Regions from separate parts of the Homo sapiens genome. Here all the other regions are linked to region 1. The links come from fine-mapping of genetic effects on gene expression. A gene starts in region 1. Each other region holds a variant in brackets. All regions are shown on one strand. Distances are from middle to middle. Region 1 holds the start of ATOH8 (atonal bHLH transcription factor 8). Region 2 overlaps GNLY (granulysin). Region 3 holds the start of GNLY (granulysin).

Region 1 (6,846 bases):
GATCCTTTGGTATTCAGCCAAGATGTGATTTTCCCAGACACAGCTTGGCCTCTTTAAGGACAAAATTCAGTCCTGCTAGAGACTTCTCACACAACCTCACCAGCCACGGGCACCCCAGTCTTCAGCTACACCCAAGTCTGGGATGCAAGGGGGCCTTAGCAGCTGGCTGACCCAGGATGCCCAAGGTCACCATTCCCTAGACTCTAGGCATCATGCCACATGCTGCACATGCTGCGTCTTTGAGTCCTTGCAGCCGTGTGAGGCACGGTATCATTACTCCCGTTTTACAGAGGAAGCTACTGAAGCTCAGAGAGTACCTGAGCAGCCCTGGAGAAGGAGTGTCACTTTTCCTCCATCTCTGCCACTGACTGGCTGGATGCACAGGAGGACTGGGTCTCCAGACAGGAGTGTAAAGGGCACGAGGGTTGCTTGTCCTTATCAGAGGTTTCCTGAGCACCAGCCTTTAGAGACAGGGAGGAAGGCAAGAGTGCGCCTTTGAGGAACGCACAAGCCCAGGAGTTCCAACAGGGCTGCAGTGGAGGCTAAGTTGCAGCAGGACTTTTGAGCAAGCATGCACACAGGCCAGCAAGAGCAATTGGAGGCTATGGTGAGCAGGGAAGGTTCGCGGGAGGAGGGGGACCGGAGCTGTTCATCGAAGGGTGAGGAAGAGTGTGCGTTGCAAAGGGGAGCCGTGGGAGACCTGGGAGCAAAGGCCAGAACTTTAGGGTTCGAGGCTGAGCAGGGAAACGACAGGAGAATGAGGGCTCCTCTTTGGCAGCACACACCTGGTCTCCAGGACAGAGATAAGGTGCAGGAATATGCAGGTGTCCAGGGAAGACGATGTCTCCGGGAGCACATGCTTTATGATGCTGGCACCCACCTTGGTGGCAAAATGAGATTTTGCATTTACTATATTCAGAAAACTGCATGCCTCAGTGTGTGTGTGTGTGTGTGTCTATGTTTGAAGTCTTATGTCAAAGTCCTTTGACATCCATCTCTTTGTCCTTTCCCAGCTACCCTGAGAAGGTTGGCTGGAAATATCCTCAAAGACAGAAAAGAGTGACGGTGGGAGGAAACGTCTTGCTCGTGGTCATGGGGTTCCGTCGTTGACAAACCAAGGCTCAACCGGGGCTGCTGGCTGGAGCTCCATGCTCCTGCCCCCAAAGCTATGCCCAGATCCCCATCCCACCTCCCAGCACCCTGCGTGCCATCTGCCTCCTCCACCCCTAGGCATTCTCCCATGGAGGAGAGAAGCACTCCACTCTGTGTGAGCCCTTGTGTTTTCATCAGAGTTCAAGGCCAGGGTCAAGGGTCCATCTTCTCCCAAACCACCTTGCTGGCTTTTAGTGTCCACCTTCCTTAAGGAGTAACAGTCACAGAGAAGGGACCAGCAAGGAGTGAAGCCCTGTTCTGAGCCTCGGAAGGGAGCGGCTGGGAAGCAGTCCTCTGGCAAGGACATCTGAGGGCCTACTAGTTTGACCCCTTCTTTCCAGAATCTCCAGTGGAATGGCACTGATGACTGAGGGTCTGGGGGGTCTACCTCTGCCCCTTGCCAATAACCGTGGGCACCTGCAAAGCTCTCACCTGGTGCCAGGCACTGCTCTGAGTGCCTTGCGCATACACGCTTTTCACACCGCCTGGGGAGGAAGGTACGATTATGACCCTCGTTTTACAGGTGAGGAAAGGGAGGCACAGAGAGGTTAAGTGACTTTCCCAAGGTCATTCAGTGAGTGGCAGAGCTGGGGTTTGAGCCCAGGAAATCTGCCTCAAGTAGCTGTTTTGCCTCAATAAATAATACTAACAACAACCACAGCTACCATTTGACGACCCGTTCCTATGTGCCTAGTGCTTTAATTCCTCAGAGCAATGCTGTGACTTAGGCGTTGTTCTCCGAATTTCTCATTTCACAGATGAGTAAATCCCGGTTTAGCAGGGCGCCTGGAGTGAGGTGACTGCGGAGGCTCGCAGACGTTAGGTCTGCCTAAATCCGAAGCTTCCACCCTCCTCTGCCTCTGTGACTTGCTGCGTGACTTTGGAGCTTTCGGAAACTCAGTTTCCCTGTCTTAAGCCCTCTGCTCCTCTTGCTTTCCCGCTCCAGCAAGTGAGAGTGGACTGGGTTGCCGTGCCGGGCGGGTGTGGGTCGCCGGGCAACTCCGGAGTCTCCCCTTCCCCATCGGCCCCCAGCAGAAGTCCCAGCTCCCGGCGTTTTCTGTCTCGTGGCGAGTTGGGGCGGAGGGAGCGGCGGGAAGGTGCCGGGTGGGCAAGGTCGGAGCTGCGTCACCGAGAGGCCGGCAAGGCCAGGGAGAAAAGGCCCCGCTGTGATTTGGGGAAGGGCCGGGGGCCCATAAGTCACGTGCTCGGGGCGGTTGTGCAGGAGCGGACTGTCCTCTGGGAACATAGAAGCGCCCCCGACTAGAGTAGGGGCGGGGAGGGAGCGCCGGAGGAGGCAGGTTCTGGGCCAAGGGGATGGGGGTGGGGGGGAGGTAGGGAGCCCGCGGACAAAGGAGGCGGCCGGCGGCCCAGCTGTTTTGAAAAATGCTTCCTGTTTCTTTAAAGGCGCTCGCGGCTCGGGCGGCCCGGGCTGGGGAGGCGGTGGCGGCGGGAGCTGCCTCCTCTCCGGGCGGCGGCGCTGACTGATCTCGCGAACTGGGCTTCTGTGTAAACTGAGGCTAAACAAACACAGATGGAGCGCAGCGGGCGTTCTCCAGAAATGCTGGCAAGGAGGCAGCGACTTCAGATGACACTCTGAGCGCTCCGGGAACGGACAGCCCGGCGGCTTCCCGAAGCCGGCGGCGCAGCTGCCCGGGGCGAGGGGGAGAAAGGGAGAGAGGGAGGGGGAGGGCGGGCGAAGCGGGAGAGCCAGAGACTCCTCGGCGCTGAGCGCGGCGGCGGCCCGGGCAGCCCCACGCCCCTGCCTCGCGCGCCGCCCGCGCCATGAAGCACATCCCGGTCCTCGAGGACGGGCCGTGGAAGACCGTGTGCGTGAAGGAGCTGAACGGCCTTAAGAAGCTCAAGCGGAAAGGCAAGGAGCCGGCGCGGCGCGCGAACGGCTATAAAACTTTCCGACTGGACTTGGAAGCGCCCGAGCCCCGCGCCGTAGCCACCAACGGGCTGCGGGACAGGACCCATCGGCTGCAGCCGGTCCCGGTACCGGTGCCGGTGCCAGTCCCAGTGGCGCCGGCCGTTCCCCCAAGAGGGGGCACGGACACAGCCGGGGAGCGCGGGGGCTCTCGGGCGCCCGAGGTCTCCGACGCGCGGAAACGCTGCTTCGCCCTAGGCGCAGTGGGGCCAGGACTCCCCACGCCGCCGCCGCCGCCGCCTCCTGCGCCCCAGAGCCAGGCACCTGGGGGCCCAGAGGCACAGCCTTTCCGGGAGCCGGGTCTGCGTCCTCGCATCTTGCTGTGCGCACCGCCCGCGCGCCCCGCGCCGTCAGCACCCCCAGCACCGCCAGCGCCCCCGGAGTCCACTGTGCGCCCTGCGCCCCCGACGCGCCCCGGGGAAAGTTCCTACTCGTCAATTTCACACGTAATTTACAATAACCACCAGGATTCCTCCGCGTCGCCTAGGAAACGACCGGGCGAAGCGACTGCCGCCTCCTCCGAGATCAAAGCCCTGCAGCAGACCCGGAGGCTCCTGGCGAACGCCAGGGAGCGGACGCGGGTGCACACCATCAGCGCAGCCTTCGAGGCGCTCAGGAAGCAGGTACCCGCTCGCCGCCGCACGCCCTCACTGCGCCGGGGGACGACTGCGGGAATGGGTGGGCGAGTGGCCGGGGCGGGATAGAGGTGTGTTTAAGGGGCAAGCTGCCCCGCCCGGTCCGACCCTGGTGCCCAGACAGGTGTGGGCAGTCCTAGGGTATGGATCATAGTTTTCAAAGTGGCTATAAGAGTTGGTTATCTCTGGCCCGAGCACCCCCCGCCCTCAACCCCCGCCTCGGGGGTAACGCTGTCTGCGCTTCTGACTTCAGCCTCCATAGTTCACTTTTATGGCAGCGAGTATTTGCCTGCCGGAGTCCCCTGGGCGCGGTGCGGAGTGGAGAGGGGAAATGTGGGAATCTGTCAGCGGAGGAAGGGGGGAGCCTTCTCCAGTTGGTGGTGGCAAGGTCCGGAACGCTGCGGTGGGACAGTCCGGGGGAGTTGTCAGCCCCTCTTCAGGCCCCAGCGGTGATGCCCCGAACACTCAGGTTGCTTCCGGGCTATGCACTCCTTGCCCTGGCATCCTCAAGAACCCGCGCTACAAGCCTGTGCCCTCTCCCCAGGGGTGGGCTCAGGAATCGGCTGGTGGGAGTCTTTCTAGCAGATCCCTTCCTTTCACCCGTGGTGAAGCAGGCAGCTCTGCCGAGGGGACTGCCTAGGTTGGGGATTCCCTCTGGAGCATCTTCAGAGCCTAGTTCTGGGGTGGGTCCGGGACTTTTTAGTTTGGGGCTGGTGCGGGCTGCCCTCACCAGACAGTGCCCCTGCGCAGGTAGCGGAAGAATACTTAACCCAAGAATTACCCGTGGTGGGGCGGGACAATCGCTTGGGCTTCTAGGCTTCTTATTTTCTTAGCGAGAAGGAGCTCTAGGAAGGAGGTGGTGAGTTCTCTCCCACCCCCACACAGGGCGTGGGGAAGGGTTAGGGTAGATGTGGCTGGTTTGAAGGGTGTTTTTTTTTTCTTTTTATTTGCATACTCTGCAGCTGACTTGCTGTGTGACTCCAGGAATGTTGCTCAACTTCTCTGGGCTTTATCCAGCAACAAAACATTTCAGAAACCATGATCTTCTTTTTGGATCACTCTCCTCTTCCTGCTGGGGGTTGGGGTGGGGTGGGGCAGTAGTGCCTGTGTCCATCCATGGAAAGGAAATTGAATCCTTGGAGGAAAGAGGCCCTATGACTTTTGAGCCAAAGTGTCTTGCTTGGGCTTGGGGAAAGTGGTCAGTGAGGTGGGGTGGGGGTGGGGGTGGGGGACGGGTGGCTGTCACAGACCAGGCTGGGCCTCTGCCCTCATCCACACCAGCTGGAACCCTGGGCGGTGGGTCCAGTGGAGCAGTCAGTCCCACCCTGAGCCAGCAGCTCTGTGTCTGCATCGCTGGGTAGAGGTGGCGGTGCGTGGGGGATCCTGCAACCCACTCCCCAGGACAGAAGGATAACAGAAGGGCAGAGAGATGCCTGTCCACCTGCCCACCTTGCCACTAGGGAAGCCCCTCCTAGACTGGGGAGGCACGTGCCCAGAGCCTCATAGCTGTTGAGTAGCAGGTCAGGGCTGGCACCTAGGGGCTTTGACTGCAGGTTCTGGGCCCTTGTGCTCCTCTATTGCCTCTGTATGCTGAGAGAATACTCATCTGAGTGCTTTGTTACATCTCATGTGCCCACTGACTTTTACTTCATTCAACAATCAATTCCATCTCATTTGATCTAAACATAATCCCTGTCGAAATTGGATTAACTCATTTTATAGTATGGAACACTGAGGCCCAGAGATGGAAGGAGACTTGTCCAAGGTCACCTAGTGGGTTAGGGAAGATAACAGCAGTTTCTGGAATGCCCTCCTGGCCAAATGCTTCCCACAGTGCCATCTGTATCAGCGTCATGTGCCACCCCCCCAGCCCCCAGCCTGTGATGTTTGTTAACAATCAAGGCAGGGTGCACACTTGGCAGACCCTTTGAGATGAGATTGTTCATCCTGGTCTCCTTTTACTTCCCCCCTTACCGTGGGAAGTTCTCTATAAAAAGGGCAAGTTCAGTGTATCTAAGTAGAAGGCACACCCATGCCCTCTCAGGGAGAGCGTGTGTATGCAATGCAAACACACAGGCAGGTACACACACACATGCTCCTTACACGTGCTCAAGAGCACACACAAATGCATGGTCACAGAAGCACCTGTTCCTGTTTGTTTCCTCCTTGCCCTAGCCATTCTGCCCCTTCCCCAGAAAGGCTGCCAGGCCATAGTGGGCACCTGCCTGTTAGCTGGGAAGGAAAGAAATACAGCCAGGACGTTTCTGGTCATAGAACCAGGGGCCAAGGCCACACCCACCATGTCCTCCTCACCACCATGGCACCCATTCGATAGAGGAAGTCCTGTGTTCTGGAGGAGCCCCTTCCTCCTCTGGGCCTCAGTCTTCTCTGTAAAATGTACTCCGCACCCCCTCCCCGAATCCAGACGAGCTGCAGCTCTGGAGCTAGGCTCGGGCCTGACTGAAATGGGTCCTTGGAAATGGACAAAAGGCAGATCAGCTCCGCCTGAAATGGGGCCTTGGCCAGTGTGGCACTGAGATGGGTTCTGGGATTGTGGCTCTGGCCTGGGGCTTCATTCTCCTGAGCAGCTTCCTGGTACCATGAAAGAAGCACTGATCTGGGAAACTGGAGGCCAGGCATTGAGTTGTTCCTCCCCTGCATGCCTTCTGTGTGGCTGTGGACAAGTCACTGACCCTTTCTGGGCCTCAGTTGCTGAAGTTGTAAAATGGTAATATTGCTGACCTCATCCAGTGTTGAGAAGAGAAAGTGAGGAAAGGTAGGAGGCCTATAAGAGCAGTGAACATTTCTTTCATTTCATTTTTTTTTTTTTTTTTGAGACAGAGTCTCTTTCTGTTGACCAGGCTGGAGTACAGTGGTGTGATCTCAGCTCACTGCAAACTCCACCTCCCAGGTTCAAGTGATTCTTCTGCCTCAGCCTCCCGAGTAGCTGGGATTACAGGTGCGCACCACCACACCTGGGTAATTTTTTGTATTTTAGTAGGGATGGGGGTTTCACCATGTTGCCCAGGCTGGCCTCGAACTCCTGGGCTGAGGTGATCCACCCACCTCTGTCTCCCAAAGTGCTAGGATTACGGGCATGAGCCACTGTGCACAGCCAGAGCACTGAACATT
Region 2 (6,846 bases), 54 kb before region 1:
TGTTTCACTCTCCCTCCTTCCCTCTCCTCTGCTGCCCCAAACTACTCAGCATCCTGGCACTGCAGGCTCGCACTTAGCCCTGGATACCCAGATTCATCCTCCTCCCCTGGGATGGCATAGAAGAGACTTTAAAACCAAATGAGCCAAGACTCCAAGCTCTGACCACACCTCCCACCCCACCAGTCTTCTCTATGCACCCCCTCTATCTGGAGCCCCCAGCCAGGTCCTGGACCCAGGTAGCTACATGGCAGAGCATTTAATGTGTGCCTGGCAGCCATGGGCACCATTCTCCACACAGAAGGCAGGGGACAGGTGCACAAGGCGCTGAGACCCCAGCAGGGCTAACTGTCCTTGTCTCAGGAGCCCTACCTGGCCAGTCTTGGGCCAGGCCTTGGGGACTGGGAGTAGGGGCTGAGCCCCGTCTGTACAGTCTCTGGCCCCATGGGCACCAGGTGCCAGCTCCTCGCACCCAGTACTCCCATTGCTAGGGCTGCTGGAACCTGCAGGGTGGCAGAGCTGGGCAGGACTCACCCTATAACCATGTCCACTGTGGTGCTGCTGCTGCAGAGAAGTGTTTCCAATGCTGCGACCCGGGTGTGTAGGACGGGGAGGTCACGATGGCGCGACGTCTGCAGAAATTTCATGAGGAGGTATCAGTCTAGAGTTACCCAGGGCCTCGTGGCCGGAGAAACTGCCCAGCAGATCTGTGAGGACCTCAGGTTGTGTATACCTTCTACAGGTGAGTGCAGAGGTGACAGCAGGGATACCTCCTGAGGGTTGGAGACAGCTTCCCCCAGGATATATCAAAGCTGCCTCCTTACTCCCCCATCTCCCAGCTTGGGAAAGTGTGGAGAATTGAGCAGATGGACTTTAGCTAGAAATGTTTGAGAAATACTGATTAGAGCTTGGGCTTCAGACACAGGTGGTCGTGGAGTAAAATCTGGTCTCCATCTCTCCCTGGCTGTGTGACCTTAAGCAAATAACTTGACCTCTCTGAGCTTCAGTTTCTTCATCTGTGAAGGGGAGATAGCAATCCTGATTTTTGAGATTGGAATGAGAATTGAAGGAGGTCACCGTGTGTGTGGACCTGACCCTGGGGAAATGTCCTCAGACTGAGGCTATTCAAGGTCATCAGACCCTCAGTCAAACTCCAATCCCAGCCCAGCACAGGCCCCTGGGGTCGGGAGCTGGGGCCATATCCTCCCCCACAATCCTGGGCCCTGAGATCTGGGCTAGGGAACCCTTCAGGCAGGGGAGCATGAGGCCTTTCCCTCCATGGCTGCCCAGGCTGTGCCTGGAGAGAACAGATCTCGGCTGTAGGAAATGGGGCCAGAAAGGGGCCTCGGTGATTGGCTCTGGCAGCTCAGCTGGCACTTGCCAATGCTCTGGGATTTTATGCTGGCAGATCGGGGGTCCCCACCATTTCCTGTCATTGGAGCTTGTGGCTTTTCTATTCAAGGCCCCACAACCTGCTCAGGCTGCCGACTGGCTTCCAGGATGTGCCTCTGGGTGTGTTCAGTAGGGTCAGGTGGCTCTGGGACCTTAAGCAAGTAACATTCTGAGTGCCTGCTTCTCCTTGAGGACCCACCACATCTGCCCACAGCTGGCTGTTCTCTCCTCTCCAGGTCCCCTCTGAGCCCTCTCACCTTGTCCTGTGGAAGAAGCACAGGCTCCTGTCCTCAGATCCCGGGAACCTCAGCAACCTCTGCCGGCTCCTCGCTTCCTCGATCCAGAATCCACTCTCCAGTCTCCCTCCCCTGACTCCCTCTGCTGTCCTCCCCTCTCACGAGAATAAAGTGTCAAGCAAGATTTTAGCCGCAGCTGCTTCTTCTTTGGTGGATTTGAGGGGTGGGTGTCAGTGGCATGCTGGGGTGAGCTGTGTAGTCCTTCAATAAATGTCTGTCGTGTGTCCCATACACTGTTGTAGATGTTATGGATTTAGTGGTGAACGAGACAACCTTAACAGCATTCACACAGTTAGTCGTGAAATGCTTACTGAGCACTCACCACAGCCATGCGTTATTCAGAAAGGCCAAGGCACACAGTGGCGATGTCCCCAGAAGCTCTCAGACCAGTGGGATAGACCAGCAGGGTTAGAGGTGTTTTTGTTTTGTTTTTGGTGAAAAGGAACAGAAACCCATCCTCTTGCTTCTTGCGACAGGCAGCCTTCCTTTGCGGTTTCGGGGGAGTGTATCTTTTAGGGCCCTTTTGGTTGCAAGCAACAGAAGTCTCAGCCCATTCTGGCCTAATCAAAAAAGATAATTTACTGGTTCAAATAATTAACCAGTCCACGGGTATGTTCAGGCACAGAATGATCCAGAAATGTGTGGCGTCAGCAGAGCCCCAGTCCTGTTTTATTGCAATTTTTCGTTCTCCCGACCTCTGTATATTGAAATTGTCTTCAGGTTCGCTTCTCTCTTGGCAGCAGAAATGGCTTCATCAGGTCCACACTTCACCTCTTTACAGTGCCTCCATCAGA[G/A]GGAGAGAGAGCTCCCTTGGAAAGAAATAGGAAGCTTCTTTCCCAGAAGGCCTATCAGCTATCTCCTCAGTTCTCATTGGCCAGTTCTCACAGGTCATTTGCCCACCCTCAGACCAATCACTGTGTCCTGGAGAATAATGGGGTACACTGATTGGCTTAAGCTAAGCAGGGCACACCCCTGGAGCTGAGGTGGGGTCCATCTCAACCCAATCACTTGGTTGACAATAAACATGAAAATCTGGGCTACTGTTGGTGGGAAGAGGGAAAAATGGATGCTGGCCACCCAAGGAGTATGGTGTGTTATTCTGGGTTCAATCAAAGAAGCTGTTCAAGGGGACTACCGATGGCCAAATCTGGGGCTATTTGAGCCTCAGAATAGATGATGACAAGAACAGATCGTAATCCATTGAATAAAGCAGAATCCATGAATTCATACAAATACAAATAATACATGAATAAATAAACAAGGGAAAAGGAAACGTGCTACCTTACAATACAATTACAGTTAATAAATGTAGACATAGTTGCAAAGTATATCCTACTAACATATTTGGTATAGTGAGTATATCATATACTAACTTGATTTTTTAAAAGTGTTTATTTATTTATTTATTTATTCTTTAGAGACAGAGTCTCACTTTGTTTCCCAGGCTGGAGTGCAGTGGCCCTTCTCAGGCATGATCTTAGCTCACTGTAGCCTCAAACTCCTGGCCTCAAGGGATACTTCCACCTAGGCCTCCAGAGTAGCTGGGACTACAGGTGTGCAGAACTGCGCCTGGCTCACTAATTTGATATTAATTAATACATTCCATTATTAGTTAACCTGACAGTGGAGAAGCCTGTCAGCTGATGAAAGTTACTCCCACCTCCCATGGGGCAAGTCAATATCATGGGCCTCATAATATAATGCTCTGAGAGAAATATAATACTACTTTTCCATTGTTCCTGCCGAAATGCAAAAATCATGAGGAAACATCAGAGCAACTCAAACTGACATTTTACAAAATACTTAGCATATCCTTTTTTTAAAAATTTTTTAAAAATTTTTTATTTTAGACTGAGTCTGGCTCTGTCACCCAGGCTGGAGTGCAGTGGCACGATCTGGGCTCACTGCAATCTCCGCCTCCTGGGTTCAAGTGATTCTCCTGCCTCAGCCTCTGAAGTAGCTTGGGATTACAGGTATGTATCACCACAGCTGGCTAATTTTGTATTTTTTATTAGAGAAGGGGTTTCACCATGTTGGCCAGGCTGGTCTCAAACTCCTGACCTCAAGTAATCTGCCTGCCTTGGCCTCTCAAAGTGCTGGGATTACAGGCGGGAGCCACTGCACTCTAGCCTGTCCTCTTCAAAAATGCCAAGGTCTTGAAAGACAAGTAAAGATTGAAGAACTGTTCCAGATAGAAGGAAACTAAAGAGACATGACAACAAATTGCGACACATGATCCTGATTTGGATCCAGACCTATAAAGAACATAATTGGGGCAATTTATAAAATGTGACTGGAATCTGTGATGGTAATATTCTGTTAATGTTAATTCCTGATTTTGATGGTTGTACTATGGTTATGTACGGCAGTGTCCTTGTTAGAAAATATACACTAAGGTATTCAAAGAGTAATAGGTCATCATATCTGCAATTACAATTTCTGAAATGATTCAGAAAAAAAGGGAATACATACGCAAAGAATGAGTGTGATAAGGTATATACCACATACATGCAATGTGGTAAGGTGTTAACAGTGGAGAATCCTGTTTAAGGGTAAATAGGGGCTCCTGTTTACACTGGGAGGTTTGGAAGGTGTAATCTCCAAACTCCATGGCAAGTTGCAAGAATGCAACTTTCAAACTTCATGTTGAAATGTGATCCCTGGCCGGGCACAGTGGCTCATGCCTGTAATCCCAGCATTTTGGGAGTCCTAGGTGGGTGGATCACCTGAGGTTGGGAGTTCAAGACCAGCCTTACCAACATGCAGAAACCCCATCGCTACTAAAAATACAAAGTTAGCCAGGCGTGGCGGCACATGCCTGTAATCCCAGCTACTCGGGAGGCTGAGGCAGGAGAATCACTTGAACCTGGGAGGCCGAGATTGCGCCATTGCGCTCCAGCCTGGGCAATGAGGACGAAACTCCATCTCAAAAAAAAAAAAAAAAAGACATGTGATCCCCAATATTGGAGGTGGGACCTAGTGGGAGGTGTATGAGTCAGGGAGGAGGATCCCTCATGAATGGCTTGGTGCCATTCTTGTGGTAATGAGTGAGTTCTTGCTCTATTAGTTTCTGTGAGAGCTGCTTGTTAAACCTCCTCTCTCTCTTTTTTCTCACTATGTGATCTCTGCACACACTTGCTCCCTTTCTCTTCTGCCATAAGTGGAAACACCTTTTTATTGAGACGGAGTCTCGCTCAGTCCCCCAGGCTGGAGTGCAGTGGCTGCTGCAACCTCTACCTCCCAGGTTCCTGGGTCCAAGTGATTCCCCTGCTGTTGAGACTATTATCATGAAGAGATGTTAAATTTTGTCAAATGATAGTTCTGTGCTATTGAGAGGATCATGTGTTTTTCATTTTTAATTTTACTGATATGATGAATTTTATTACTTGACTTTTGGTTGCTGATTTGCCTTGCATTTCTGGATAAATCTTACCTGGTCATGGTATATAATTGTTTTTATGTGTTGCAGGATTCAGCCTGCTAGAATTTTTTTTGAAAATTTTTGTATCCATATTCAAAAGAGATATTGGTCTGTAGTTTTTTTTTTTCTTTTGATGTTTTCATCTGGTTTCACCTGGTTTTGGCATCAGGGCATCCTCTTCTAGTTTTTGGAAGAGTTTCTGAAGAATTGGTATTAATTCTTTAAATATTTGGTAGAATTCACCAATGAAGACATCTGGCTTGGTATTTTCTTTGTGAGTCATTGTTTTGATGACTAATTCAACCTATTTATTATAGGTCTATTCAGATTTTCTGTTACTCTTGCATCAGTTTCAGTCATTTGTGTCTTTGTAGGAATGTGCCCATTTCATTCTAAGTTGTCTAATGCATTAGCATAATTAATTAGCATAATAGTATAATCCTTTTTCTCTCTGTAAGGTCAGTTGTAATTTCCCCTCCTTCATTTCTGATTCTAGTAATTTGCAGCATCTCTCTTTTTATTGTGGTCAATCTAACTAAAGACTTGCTTTTTCAAAGAACCAACTTTTGATTTCATCTCGTATTCTCAAATATTGTTTCTAGTCTCCATTTTAATAATTTCCACATTTCCACTCTAATTTTTTAAGTATCTCTTTTTTTCTGCTTGCTTTAGGTTTAATTTGCTCTTCTTTCTCATGTCTTTTTTTTTTTTCCATTGTAACCTTGAACTCCTGGGCTCAAGCAATCTTCCTGCCTCAGACTCCCAAGTAGCTAGGACTACAGGCACAGGCCACCATGCTCAGCTAATTTACTTTTCTTTTTTTTAGAGATAGATCTCGCTATGTTGCCCAGGCTGGGTTTGAACTCCTGGCATCAAATGATCTTCCTGCGTTGGCCTCTCAAAGTGCTGAGACTACAGATGTGAGCCACTGCACCCAGCCTTTTTCCATTGTCTTAAAATGGGATTTCTGAGACGAAGATTTCAAATCTTCCTCTTTTTCATTATAGGCATTTACAGCTACAAATTTCCCTTTTGGCACAGCTTAAGCTACAACCCGTAAGTTTTGGTGTGCTGTGGTTTCATTTTCTTTCACCTCAAGGTATTTTCTAATTTCCCTCTTGATTTTTCCTTTAATCCATTGGTTATTTAGGAGTGTGTTGTTTAATTTTCACATATTTGTGAGTTCCCCAAATTTGTTTCTGTTACTGATTATTAGTTTTATTCTGTTGTGGTCAGGGAACATATTTTGTATTCTTTCTATCCTTTTTAATTTATTGACGTTTGTTTTATGGGCTACCACATAGTCTATCCTGGAGGTGTGTTTCCCCACTGCTATCTGGACTCATCTGCACTCCACTGTTTCTGATGAGGAGGCACCTGTTAATAATTGGGGGTTCCCTTGTAAGTGATGAATTGTTTTTCTTTTGCTGCTGTCAAGATTTTCTCCCTGTATTTGGCTTTCAGCTTTTCTTTCTGTCTCTCTCTCTTTCTTTCTCCCCTTCCTTCTTCCTTTCCTTCCTTCCTTCCTTTTCTTTCTTTCTTTCCTTCCTTCCCTCCCTCCCTCCCTCCCTCCCACCTTCCTTCCTTCCTTCCTTCCTTCCTTTCTTCCTTCCTTTCTTCCTTCCTTCCTTCCTTCAACAGAGTCTTGCTCAGTCACCCAGGCTGGAGTGCAGTGGCACCATCTCAGCTCACTGCAACCTCCACCTCCTGGGTTCAACCGATTCTCCTGCCTCAGCCTCC
Region 3 (6,846 bases), 63 kb before region 1:
GGACATAAAAAGACAATTTCAAAATAAATGTAAATGTAAACAAATACCTGGGAAAATATTAAACTTAATTTGTAGTCATTGAAATGGAAATAAAAGTAGGTGTTAGTTTCACTCATTACATTTGCAAAATAAAGAGTGTGACAATATTCAATGCTGGTGAGAGTGCAGGGAACTCTCATACAATGTTGGCAATGTTGTAAATGGGTACAATCCTTTGGGGAAGTATTTGATATTGTTCATTGGGAGCCATAAAATTGTAACTTAAGAATCTTTTTTGTTCGGGCGTGGTGGCTCACACCTGTAATCCCAGCACTTTGGGAGGCTGAGGCGGGCGGATCACCTGAGGTCGGGAGTTCTAGACCAGCCTGACCAACATGGAGAAACCCCGTTTCTACTAAAAATACAAAATTAGCCAGGTATGGTGGCACACGCCTGTAATCCCAGCTACTCATGAGGCCAAGGCAGGAGAATAGCTTGAATACTGGAGGCGGAGGCTACGGTGAGCCAAGATCATGCCATTGCACTCCAGCCTGGGCAACAAGAGGGAATCTCCCTCTCAAAAATAATAATAATAATAATTTTTTGGATAATTTTTAAATTGAGGTATAATTTACATCTAGCAAAATGCTTAAGTCTTAAGTGTCCAGTTTGAAGAGTTTTGATAGATGCACACTCATGCAATTCACAAGCTAATTAAGATATAGAACACTTTCACTATCTAAAAAAAATACCCCTGTGCCAGCCCAATAACCCTCACATCCTCCTCCCACCTCCTACCATTTTTCTGATTTCTTTTGCCATAGATGAATTTTGCTGCTCAAGAACTTCATACAAATGGAATCATACAGAATGTAGTCTTTCGTGTCTGGCTTCTTTTTCCTTTTTTTTTTTTTTTTTTAAAGATTTATTCATTTTATTGCTTGTATTAGTAGTTCATTCCTTTTTATTGCCAAGTAGTTATGTATAATATTGTATGGCTCTACCTTAATTTCTTCATCCATTGACCTGTTGATGGACATTTGGGTTATGTCTAATTTTTGGCTGTTATGAAAAAGCTTCTGCAAACAATCTTTTATTTATTTATTTATTTATTCATTCATTCTTCCTTTTTTCATTTTCTTTGAACAACCTTTTAAAACAATTTTTTTCTATTGTGGTAAAATACATATAACATAAAACGTTTACCACAAAAAATGATAACGGAGGTGATAGATATGTTAATTACCTTGATTTAATCATTCCAAGTGGTATACATATATCAAAACATCACATTGTACTCCATAAATATATAAAATTATGATTTGTCAATTAAAAATAATATTAATAAAAATAAATGACAAAATTAGCCATTTTAACCATTTTAAATGTACAATCCAGTGGCATTAATTATACTCACAAGATTGTGGAATCATCTATTTGGAACTATCGATTTCCAAAACCATTCTCATCATCCCAAATGGAAAGTCTAACCAGTGGGCACTAAATCCTTCATTTCCCACTCCTTCCAGCCCTGGGTAACCTCTAATCTACTTTCTGTCCCTATGAATTTGTTTATTCTATAAATTTTATGTAAGTGGAATCATACAATGTTTATCCTTTTGTGTTTGGCTTACTTCGCTTGGCATAATTATTTCAAGGTTCATTCATGTTGTAGTATGTATCAGAACTGTGTTCCCTTTTTAGGCTGAATCATATTCCATTGTATATGTAGAGCACATTTTGTTTATGCACTTTTTAAAATTTTAATTTTAATTTTTCTTAGAGACAGGCTCTCACTCTGTCATCCAGGCTGGAGTGCAGTGGCATGACCTTGGCTCACTGCAGCCTCGACTTCCTGGGCTCAAGCAATCCTCTCACCTCAGCCTCCTGAGTAGCTGGGAGTACAGGCACATGCCACCATGCTCAGCTAATTCTTAACTTTTTCTGTAGAGCTGGGGTCTACTATGTTGCTCAGGGTGGCCTCAAACTCCTGGCCTCAAGCCATCTTCCCACCTTGGCCTCCCAAAGTGCTGGGATTACAGGTGTGAGCCACTATGCCCGGCTTGTTTATCCATTTATTTGTCAATGGACACCTGGGCTCTTTCCATCTTTTGGCTACTGTGAATAATGCTTCTATGAACATTGATGTACAAGTATCTGTTTCAATCTACTTTTATTTCTTTTGGGTGTCTACCTAGGAGTGGAATTGCTGGGTTACATGTCTGTGAACATTCTTGTATAAATCTGTGTATGTAGAGGTGTTTTCATTTAGTTTGGGTAAATACATAGAAGTGAAATTGTTGAGTCACAGGGCAGGTGTACGCTCAACTTTCTGAAAAACCGTCAATCCAATTTTCAGTTATTAGTGTTTTATATTCCCACCAACAATGCTTAAGAGTACCAGTTGCTCCACAGACACATCAGCATTTGGGTTTTCTGTCTTTTTAATTTTAGTCATGTTGATGCATCATCTCAGTATAGTTTTAATATAGAATTTCTTGGCCAGACGCAGTGGCTCATGCGTGTAATCCCAACACTTTGGGAGGCTGAGGTGGGTGAATCACTTGAGATCAGCAGTTCAAGACCAGCCTGGACCAAGATGGTGAAACCCCATCTCTACCAAAAATACAAAAATTAGCCAGGTTTGGTGGTGTGTGCCTGTAATCCCAGCTACTCAGGAGGCTGAGGCAGGAGAATTGCTTGAAGCCGGGAGACAGAGGTGGCAGTGAGCCGAGATCACGCCACTGCACTCCAGCCTGGGCGACAGAGTGAGGATCCATCTCAAAAAAAAAAAAAAGGAATTTCTTTGTGATTTACGATGTTGAGCAGGTTTTCAAATGTTTTGGTCATTCTTATCTTCCTTTGCGAATTACCTGTTCAAATATTTTGCCCATTTAAAAAATTGGATTGCTTTATTATTATTATTGCAGTAGCAGTTGATATAATAAGGAGTCCGTAAACAGACCCACAGTCAATTGATATTCAACCAACGTGCCAAAGCAATTCAATGGGAAAAGAAAAATCTTTTCAAGAAATTGATATGAAGAAACAAAACCTCAACCCAGCTCACACTATACATTAATTTGAGATGAGTCATAGACCTAAATGTCAAAGTTAAAATTATAAAAGTTCTAGAAAAAAACATAGAGGTGATTTTTATGATAGCGTAAGTGAAGATTTCCTGAAGAAGATACAGCAGGCAATATTTCTTTTCTTTTCTTTTTTTTGAGACGGAGTCTCGCTCTGTCGCCAGGCTGGAGTGCAGTGGCGCGATCTCGGCTCACTGCAAGCTCCGCAGAAGGCAATATTTCACAGAGGAATTCTTTGTGGGCCTGGGCCTGACTTGCAATGGGCCAGTTCCTGGGGTACCATGGGTGGGAATTGGGTAAAACTTACCCCAGGTTCTTATCACACGGGACCCCAGAGGCCTGGGTGGAGGCTTGTGACTAACTACATGAGCTTTGCCACGTACTCCTCAATACCTCTGACAAGGACTTACTGCAGTGTTTGGTCTCACCAAGTTTCCCACAATAAAGAGACATGAGTCACCTTTCAAGACCCTTTACCCCCAAGAATGTGGTCTTCACACATGAGACCAAGGTCTACAAGTGGTCAGGAGAGAGGGGGTCTGCTCAGATGGGGGAGTAGTGCCTGAGCTGGCCTCAAGAGGGTTAAGTGGCCCTGCACTGAAAACCTGGACACTGAGTTAG[G/A]GTAGGGCTGGGGGAAAACTTGGGCTTTGGAGTCGTAGGGTCTGGGTTCAAATCCACAGACCATTCCCTTCCTAGCTGTGTGTTGGTGGGTAATTCACTGGATCTTTCTGAGTCCTGGTTTCCTCATCTGAGGTAAAACGAGTTTGCCGGTTGGTCTGAGAGCTGTTCTAGGCATGGTGGGGAGACCCTGACAGGCAGAGGCAGCCCTGCTCTCAAGCAGTTGATTTACAGCTGGGGAAACAAGACAGCCACAAATGCAATACCTCAAACTCAACTTCTCACCAGAAAGCTCCTTTTCCTAATTTTCACAGCCAGTCCCTCAGCCTCCTGGGCCCCAAATACTAGTAAAACCTTTGCCTCCTCTCTCTTCTTTCTTTCTTGTAATCATATAGGTACAAAGTCCTACCAATTCTTCCTGAAATATGTTTCCTTATCAAAAAGTCCTGCAAAGCCGTGCGTGGTTGCTCATGCCTATAATCCCAGCACTTTGGAGGCTGGGAGGATCGCTTGAGTCCAGGAGTTCGAGACCAGCCTGGACAACATATGGAGACCCATCTCTACCAAAAATTTTAAAATCAGCAGGGGTGGTAGTGGCAAGCACCTGTGGTCTCATCTACTTGGGAGGCTGAGGTGGGGGGATTGTTGGAGCCTGGGCGGTTGAGGCTGCAGTGATCTGTGATTGCACCACTGCACTCTAGCCTGAGGTACAGAGCAAGAACTTGTATCAGAAAAAAAAAAAAAAAGTCCTGCGGTAGCTGACACTGCCATTGCCTATACGATTCCCATTCCCTCATCCTCCCTAGCAGGATATCAATTTTGTTCGAAGTGTCAATGAAGGCCAGGTGCGGTGGCTGATGCCTGTAATCCTAACACTTTGGGAGGCCGAGGCAGGCGGATCACCTGAGGTCAGGAGTTCAAGACCAGCCTGGCCAACATGGTGAAACCCTGTCTCTACTAAAAACACACAAATTAGCAGGGCATGGTGGCGTGCACCTGTAATCCCAGCTACTCAGGAGGCTGAGACAGGAGAATCACTTGAACCCGGAGGTGGAGGTTGCAATCAGCCAAGATCACACCACTGCACTTCAGCTTGGGTGACAAGAGTGAAACTCTGTCTCAAAAAAGAAAAACAAAACAAAAACAAACAACAACAACAAAAAGCAAAGTGTCAGTGAAGGTCCAGCAAAAGACTCCCTTCCTATTGCCCTTTGCAGCCAGGGTCATCATGTGACACAGTTCAGATCAATGAGATGGAGGCTGAGGGTCCCTGGGAAAGATGTTTTTCCTATACAGGTACCACCTCTTTCAGCTTCACTCTTTCCATTTTCCACGTGAACAGGCCTTGTAGCCTGGAGGAGCTACAGCTGCCTTTTTGAGATGCTGAGGCACCCTGTCTGAAGAAGGCCCTCACATCACTCAACTTGACTACTGGGTGAGCCCTTGGAGAGGCTTCCCAGCCTCTGCTCTTCAAGCCGAAGTACCACAGGGGACACGAGTCCCAGAGTTACAGGACCCCAGCTATGGTTCATGTGTAAAGGGAACCATTAGGCAACCAGGGGAAATGATGAAGAAGATCTACATTTACAAATGTGGAAAGATGTTCGTGGTATATTGTTAAATTAAAAAGCTGTTTAAAAATAGTTTTTGGGTCAAGTGAGATGACTCACTTATACTTTTAGTATAAGTATGTCCCATGCAATATCTGGAACGTACTTGTACTAAGGGGTTTCTCCCTCCATCGGCACATCCCAGGCATCCTGGCAGCTGCTGGCCTCCAGCAACCCCACATTCTAGTTGTGTGGGAGTGGGGTGTGGCATGGACCCTGTGGGCTACCACTGCCCTGAGCTGCTTCTTCACACACTGGTATTTGTATCTGTGGTAAACCCAGTGACACGGGGGAGATGACATACAAAAAGGGCAGGACCTGAGAAAGATTAAGCTGCAGGCTCCCTGCCCATAAAACAGGGTGTGAAAGGCATCTCAGCGGCTGCCCCACCATGGCTACCTGGGCCCTCCTGCTCCTTGCAGCCATGCTCCTGGGCAACCCAGGTAAGGCCTTCCCCTCGGGATCGATCCTGATGGCCCACCCAGCCTCGCACTCTCAGGCTGGCTGAACCTGGAGCTTGGACTCTGTGGGCACCCAGGTGCCCCTGCCTCCCCCCGGCCTTCTCCCCCGTCATGGAGGCCTGGCCTCCCCTCAGAGCCAGGCTTAGTCCAGTGTGCTGCCCAGCCTGTCACTGGCCTGGCCAAGGAGGAGAGACAGGCCAGGGATTCTGGTCCTAACTCTACTGGCCACACTGTGTGGCCTGAGACCCCCCTTTCCCTCCCAAGCCCCTGCCTCCGCATCTGCGTGGTGAAGGCCATTGGCCCTCATCGGTGGATCTGCGTTTCCTCGGGCCTACACTGTCTAGGATTGTGCGGGGCTGGTGAGAGAACAAGATCTCTTCTGTGTTCAAGGCAGACTTCCTGCCCCCTGCACCCTGCTCTCTCCCAGGCCTTGAGGTCAGTGTGAGCCCCAAGGGCAAGAACACTTCTGGAAGGGAGAGTGGATTTGGCTGGGCCATCTGGATGGAAGGTAAAAAAAGAAAATCCCTTGAAAGGAGATTGAGGGAAGTTTCTAGACAAACCGACCCCCAAATCTGTGTTGCTGGGGGAACAGAGGAGAAGAGAGAGTCTCGCCCTCCTGGCTTTCTAGAAGGAACGTGAGAACACGTGTTTGTGCTGAGAGTGGGTCAGAGCGGCTCCAGGGCAAAGCATGTGGACAGGTATCCTGGCCCCCTGCAAGGCCCAGCTCCTGTCCTAGGCCCTGGTCACCTCCTGGACTCCCACCAGCCAGGAGAACGGGCTTTCCCTCTCCTTCCGCCTGCGGAGGGGAAGCTGAAGTCTGGTCTTCCTCAGGTCTGGTCTTCTCTCGTCTGAGCCCTGAGTACTACGACCTGGCAAGAGCCCACCTGCGTGATGAGGAGAAATCCTGCCCGTGCCTGGCCCAGGAGGGCCCCCAGGTACGTGTTGGCTCTCTGCTCACCTGCCACAGTCCCTCTCCTTTCCCTCCTCCCTGGTGGCTCCTGGGGTGAGGTCTGGAGCTCTCTAATGGTCAGGAGGTGGGAGTGGAGGCTGGGCTGTTTCTGACGATGCTGGTTTTGTTGAATTCATGTC

The links. PIP is the estimated chance that this variant, and not a neighbour inherited with it, causes the effect. A credible set is the group of variants that fine-mapping cannot tell apart.
Region 2: its variant is the best candidate, but not a certain one, in a credible set for the expression of ATOH8 in whole blood (INTERVAL, PIP 0.70).
Region 3: its variant is the best candidate, but not a certain one, in a credible set for the expression of ATOH8 in whole blood (INTERVAL, PIP 0.77).

The regions. Positions count from the first base shown.
Region 1 is chr2:85,751,256-85,758,101 of GRCh38, forward strand. ATOH8 (atonal bHLH transcription factor 8) reads left to right here and starts at 2,736. Exons shown (of 3, transcript NM_032827.7): 1 at 2,736-3,702. The coding sequence starts at 2,935.
Region 2 is chr2:85,696,939-85,703,784 of GRCh38, forward strand. GNLY (granulysin) reads left to right here. Exons shown (of 5, transcript NM_006433.5): 4 at 568-739; 5 at 1,626-1,914. The coding sequence ends at 1,636. Among named protein-coding and RNA genes, the nearest start is that of GNLY, 6.0 kb to the left of the region's middle. The variant G/A (reference allele first, on the strand shown) is at 2,480.
Region 3 is chr2:85,688,732-85,695,577 of GRCh38, forward strand. It overlaps GNLY (granulysin), which reads left to right and starts at 5,627. Exons shown (of 5, transcript NM_006433.5): 1 at 5,627-5,739; 2 at 6,589-6,692. The coding sequence starts at 5,688. The variant G/A (reference allele first, on the strand shown) is at 3,690.